Linked DNA regions of Homo sapiens: region 2 is linked to region 1. Evidence: fine-mapped expression QTL. A gene starts in region 1. The other region holds a variant in brackets. All regions are shown on one strand. Distances are from middle to middle. Region 1 holds the start of KLHL9 (kelch like family member 9). Region 2 has its middle 7.6 kb from the start of IFNA8.

Region 1 (2,924 bases):
AGATAGTCTTTTAAAATAACTAAACATATGGGAATATAATGAAGAGTGTCTATAGTAATCATTTCATGAAGACACAAGTCTGTTCCTAAGCTATTAATCTTACTTGCAAGTTTGATGAAAAAAAGAAGGATCTCATGATTTCTTGCTCCAACTTCCCATGTACAGAGGCTCTCTTCTTTCTTTTCCAGATAGAGACTGATTCCTTGGAAGTAGCTCTTCACAGCATTAGGGAGTTGTCATGGCCTGAGAGAGCCCTTCCACCCCTAACTCATTCAACAAGCAGGGCTCCAGGACTTCCCAATGCTGATAAAAATTCAGTGAATAATTTCTCCAGGCCAGTTTCATTCCAACCAACCTCTTGTGTTGAATAAGGTGACAATCTGCTGGAGCACCTTGTGGAGGACAGTGGTAGTCTAAGCCTTCTGAATTTTGCTGCCATCCCTTGGAAACAATAGAAAACATTCAAAACAGATGAACTGCCCATCAACAGGGCACTGGTTAAATAACTTATGATGTAACAACTCAGAAGGCAACAACAGAATTGTTTAAAAATATAAATAAGCCCTCTACACTAATTCAGGAAGATCTTGAAGTGAAAAAAAAAGATGCAGAACAGTGTACATGGTATGCTATCTTTTACATAAAAACGAGGCGAGTGTAAGAAAAACATGACTACATTCTTACTTTGCATATGCATAAAGAACTAGAAGGATTTAAAAGACAGAAACTTCAAAATTTGGAAAATGGAAGAAATTGTGTCAAAGTATACATTTATTTGTATGTCAAAATTTAAATTTACCACTAATTAAAGAAATGCAAGTTAATAAAATACTCACAAAGGGAAAAGTCAGAAGAAGGGAAAGACACAAACATTGTTGGTGATAATATTTTGGAAATATTGTCTTGGATCAGTATTTTACTAAATATTATCCATAACAGGGCTAAAATTTTGCTACCAGATTGTATAAGTTTACTACCGAGTCTATAAAACAATGGAGGATAAGAAGGTACACATTCAGGAACAAACCAATGGGCAAAGGAAACTATAGTATGTATAGTTATTGGAAAATTATGTAGCCATTTTTAAAATTGTGGAAAACAAAGGCATTTCAAGCCAAAAATTTAGAATATATCATTTACATAATAAAGTAACAATCTAGTAAAGACAAATATTTTGCGTTTGAAATTGTAACAAATTTGAAAATATGAACCAAAATTGTAACTGAAGTATCTACTACATAATGTGGGATAACAATTATTGTTTTGTAGAGGAAAAAAAAAATTAAGCATCCAGGTTTCCTCTCAATTTATACAAATGCCGCATTTCACTGTTATTCAAAAAAACAGAAGCTAGGAAGCGTAAAGCTTTGAAAAATTATGCATTTGGGGAACGTAAGAGCTCAGATATGCGAAAAACTTATATCAAACGTGCAGCATAACACACTTGCTTGCACACATTCTGTCCTATTTGGTCCCACATACAAGGCAGCTCTAAGAGGCCGGGCTGGCGCCCACCCCACACAGCTCCGCTTCCCCAACCCTCGCCCTCCCGCCTCCCGGGTACTTCCTCCCCCTTCCCCACCCCCACCCTCCCGCTGACTGACGAGGTCTGGAGGCCGCGCAGCCGCAGTAGCCGCTAAGGCCGCTCCCACCCCGTGGTATCCTGGGACTAGGCTTTTCCGGAAGGAGCGGCTCGGTGTTGGGGCTAGGCCGGTATTCTAGGCCCAAGCCCAGGCCCAGGCCTGTGTTCCCGGCCCTTGCTCAAAGACAGGCCGGTGGCCGCTGCGACACTCTAGGTACAGCGGAGGGCGCAGCGGGCCGTTCGCTGAGGTGTCCGGACCCGCCGCCGAGCGGGCCGTGGAGCCACAGTACGTGGCGGCGCCTCTTCCTTGCCCGAAGCGGAACTGCTGAAGGAGCGGCAGCGCAGGCCGGACGAGGTGAACCAGGTCATTTAACCGCCTTCAGGTGATGAATCATCTGTCTAATAATCAGATTTGAGGTCCACAGCCCTTTGTGGTCCTGCTACAGGGTGATTTTCAGTGGATGACTGACTGGCGTGGCCCGAGGGGTGCCGCAGTGACTGCCTTCCCTTGATAAGGAAACGAGCTTTCTGTTCTTTCTGGACACCTCGTTACCTGTAAAACATTCCGGTTATAACTTCTTTATCCGGCTTGCATCTCTGTGCAAGAGGAAAGCTTTCACATGAAAGTGTCCCTTGGTAACGGCGAAATGGGCGTCTCTGCCCATTTGCAGCCTTGTAAGGCAGGAACCACACGCTTTTTTACCAGCAATACTCACAGTTCGGTGGTATTGCAAGGCTTTGATCAGCTTAGAATAGAAGGATTGCTTTGTGATGTGACCCTGGTACCAGGTGATGGAGATGAAATCTTCCCTGTTCACAGAGCTATGATGGCGTCTGCTAGTGATTATTTCAAAGCCATGTTCACAGGTGGAATGAAAGAACAAGATTTGATGTGCATTAAGCTTCATGGGGTGAACAAGGTTGGTCTGAAGAAAATCATTGATTTTATTTATACTGCAAAACTTTCTCTTAATATGGACAATCTTCAGGACACACTTGAAGCTGCTAGCTTTTTACAAATATTACCCGTTTTGGATTTCTGTAAAGTATTTCTTATATCAGGAGTCTCTTTGGATAACTGTGTTGAGGTTGGACGAATTGCTAACACCTACAATCTTATAGAAGTGGATAAATATGTTAATAATTTCATCCTGAAGAACTTTCCTGCTTTATTGAGTACTGGGGAGTTTCTAAAACTCCCTTTTGAACGACTTGCATTTGTGCTTTCCAGTAATAGTCTTAAGCACTGTACCGAACTTGAACTCTTTAAGGCAGCCTGTCGCTGGCTAAGGTTGGAAGACCCTCGGATGGATTATGCTGCAAAGTTAATGAAGAATATTCG
Region 2 (2,924 bases), 66 kb before region 1:
CGGCCGCAGCAAGGCGCCAGAATGGGTTTTCCTGATGCCCAGGATTTGGGAACCGCGGGTTTGAGTTTCGGGGCGTCCCGCAGCCCCAGGGAAACGTCGTCGCGGCTTATCGCGCCAACTTTGTGCAGCTTCGACCTGAGTAAAAAAATCTCTTTTGCTGCTCAGGAGGCAGCTCCGCCGTGGTCTCCCTTGAGACATCTTCCTCAGGTAGCCAGCAGGGCACCTTTTATTTTCGGGATTTTCCCCTGGGTTTGGGGCTTTTATTTCCCATAGAGACTTCAGCGAGACTTGTTTTTACAGAGGGACCCGTTGATTCCGGGACTTGAGGGCTCGAGATCGCACGGGTTTAATCTTGGGGATTCCGTTTGTGTGGGGGCGCAGGGCGGGGACGTCTTGGGGAAGGGGACACGCTGGACCCTGGGGCGAGCGGACGGGTCCTGGGAGCGCCCGGGGCTGGGGACGCCGCGCACCGGGCCAGGAGCAGAGAGGCGCCCGTGCCTGCCCCAGGGTGTGCCAGGAGCTAAGCTTTCAGCTTCAGACGCCAGTGTCGCTGAAACCATAATTCAGGTATGTTAAAACTCAACAGCATTATTTTAAATACTTTATACCAAAACAAGAATGTTGTGATCTTACTTCCCTAGCTTTAAAGGAAGCAAACTCAGCAATGCTTTCAAGATCCCTACTTTGTTTTATCTGGGAGAAGTGCCATGTCTGACATTTCCAGTGACTCAGTGACACTGAGATAATTTTATTTAACTTTGGTTTACTGAAAGCCCTTCCTCAAGACCCCACCTTGACTTGTGTTGCTGAAAAGAGAAATGAGCAGTGTTGCCTACAAAGAGTAGAGGAGCAGGTCAGAACTTTTTATTTTCTAGGGTAAGAATTTTATAGCCTGAGTGGAGTTTGCCATAATTTGTTACACTGGCCCCTCTCCTTTGTAAGACCCTCAGGGTCATCTTACATTTCCTGCCTTTACTTAATTAAAATTTTGATATTTGCCTCATCATGGATGTTTAGGCATTAATTTCCAATTTTAATATTGTATTAAAATAGTATTTGAGTTGATAATTTAAGTATATATTTTAAATATATAAAGGATATATATTTTTATATTGATCTATTTTATATGTGTGTTTCTGTACATTTAAATACTTACGTATACATATTTATATATTTCAGCATATACTTTATATAAAATTATAACATATGTATATATTTATATATTTAAATACCCATAATATATAAAATGTAAGTATATATTCTACATATACTTACATATATATATAGATATAGAGTTATAAACTAAAACTAAAAATAAAATACTAAGCCACCCATTGGCTGAACATGCCCCCTTTTGGCCAATGGAACCCCTAAAAACCTTAACTGAATTCTCAACCATGATGGGAAGCAGGATGGACACGCCTCATTATATCCCCCTCCGTTTTGGAGTATGGACACAAACTGGCCAGCATTGATGTTATAAGAGAGATAATAAGACAAAACAGACTTTGTGGCAATAAGATACCAAATTATAAGCAAGACCTAAGGCCATGCAAGGCGAGAGTTATGTACTGCAAACCATAAAATCTCCTTAAATGGATTTTTAAAAATTAACCCAGTAAAATGTGGCTCACTTTCTAACCTAACTCTCATATAATACCATATGGCAGATTGCAGACCCATTTATCTTAATTTAAGCATTCTTTTCTAATGACTTCAAGTCTTTAGACAAAGCTTAACTGTTTCAACCAATTGCCAGCTAAAGAATCCCTGAAACCCACCTGTGACTTTTAAATCCCCACT[T/C]TGAGATGTCTTGCCTTTTCTGGCCAAACCACTGTATACCTTCCATGTATTGATTTATGATTTTACCTGCAATTCGTATCTCCCTGAAATGTCTAAAACCAAATTATAACCCAACCACCTTGGGTGCACTTTTTCAGGACCTCTTAAAACTGTTTCTCCAGGATATGGTCACTCATATTGGCTCAGAATAAACTTCTTTAAAATATTTTCCAGTCTTACAGACAATTTCCTCTCCTAGAGTTTCCATTTAGGAGGCGCCAATGTGCAAGACCCTGAGAGTGTCAGGGGAGCTGCAATCAAAGCTTTTCTTGGATGGACTTGGTTGAATATGGACTATACAGATTATAAATACATGGTTGTATGTATATATATATTTTTTCTATATAGTTCACAAATGCAAACTATATAGATTATACTAAAGGTTACTATCTGTATTAGTCTGTTCTCATGCTGCTACTAAAGACATACCCAAGACTGAGTAATTTATAAAGGAAAGAGGTTTAATTGACTCACAGTTCCACATGGCTGGGGAGGCCTCACAATCATGGCGGAAGGTGAATGAGGAGCAAAGTCATGTCTTACATGGTGGCAGGCAAGAGAGAGCTTGTGCAGGGAGGAGAACCCCCATTTATAAAACCATTGGATCTTGTGAGACTTATTCGCTACCACGAGAACAATATGGGAGAAACTGCCCCCATGATTCAATTATCTCCACCTGGCCCCACTATTGACATGTGGGAATTATTACAATTCAAGGTGAGATTTGGGTGGAGACACAGCCAAACCACATCACTATAATTTATCATGTTCAGATTCTCAGCCAGTAATTTCCAAACTTTATTTCATTTAATCTTTACAGTTTCTAATATGACAACTACTAAAATATTCTGAATTTTTCAGAAGAGGAAATGAAAATCTGATGTTTAACTTGCTAAGAGTCACAGATTTTGTCAGAAAGTGGAGCTTTCTACTGCCTCCAACTCCCCTCTTGATTTGCTCTCAGTACTTCCTCTTGGCAGCACTGAGAATGCTAGTGCTTAATTAATCATAATCGTGTCTTTAATGTCTGGCTTTTGCTCCCTGGAGGGCAATCATCATCCTGTCTTATTATCCTTGAACCC

Evidence for each region. PIP is the estimated chance that this variant, and not a neighbour inherited with it, causes the effect.
Region 2: its variant is the best candidate, but not a certain one, in a credible set for the expression of KLHL9 in whole blood (TOPMed, PIP 0.79).

Annotation. Positions count from the first base shown.
Region 1 is chr9:21,334,138-21,337,061 of GRCh38, reverse strand. KLHL9 (kelch like family member 9) reads left to right here and starts at 1,658. Exons shown (of 1, transcript NM_018847.4): 1 at 1,658-2,924. The coding sequence starts at 2,203. LOC107987053 (a long non-coding RNA gene) reads right to left here. Exons shown (of 3, transcript XR_001746634.2): 3 at 1-441. RefSeq lists a silencer at 1,469-1,638 and enhancers at 1,679-1,988, 2,179-2,228.
Region 2 is chr9:21,400,074-21,402,997 of GRCh38, reverse strand. No RefSeq gene overlaps it. Among named protein-coding and RNA genes, the nearest start is that of IFNA8, 7.6 kb to the left of the region's middle. The variant T/C (reference allele first, on the strand shown) is at 1,804.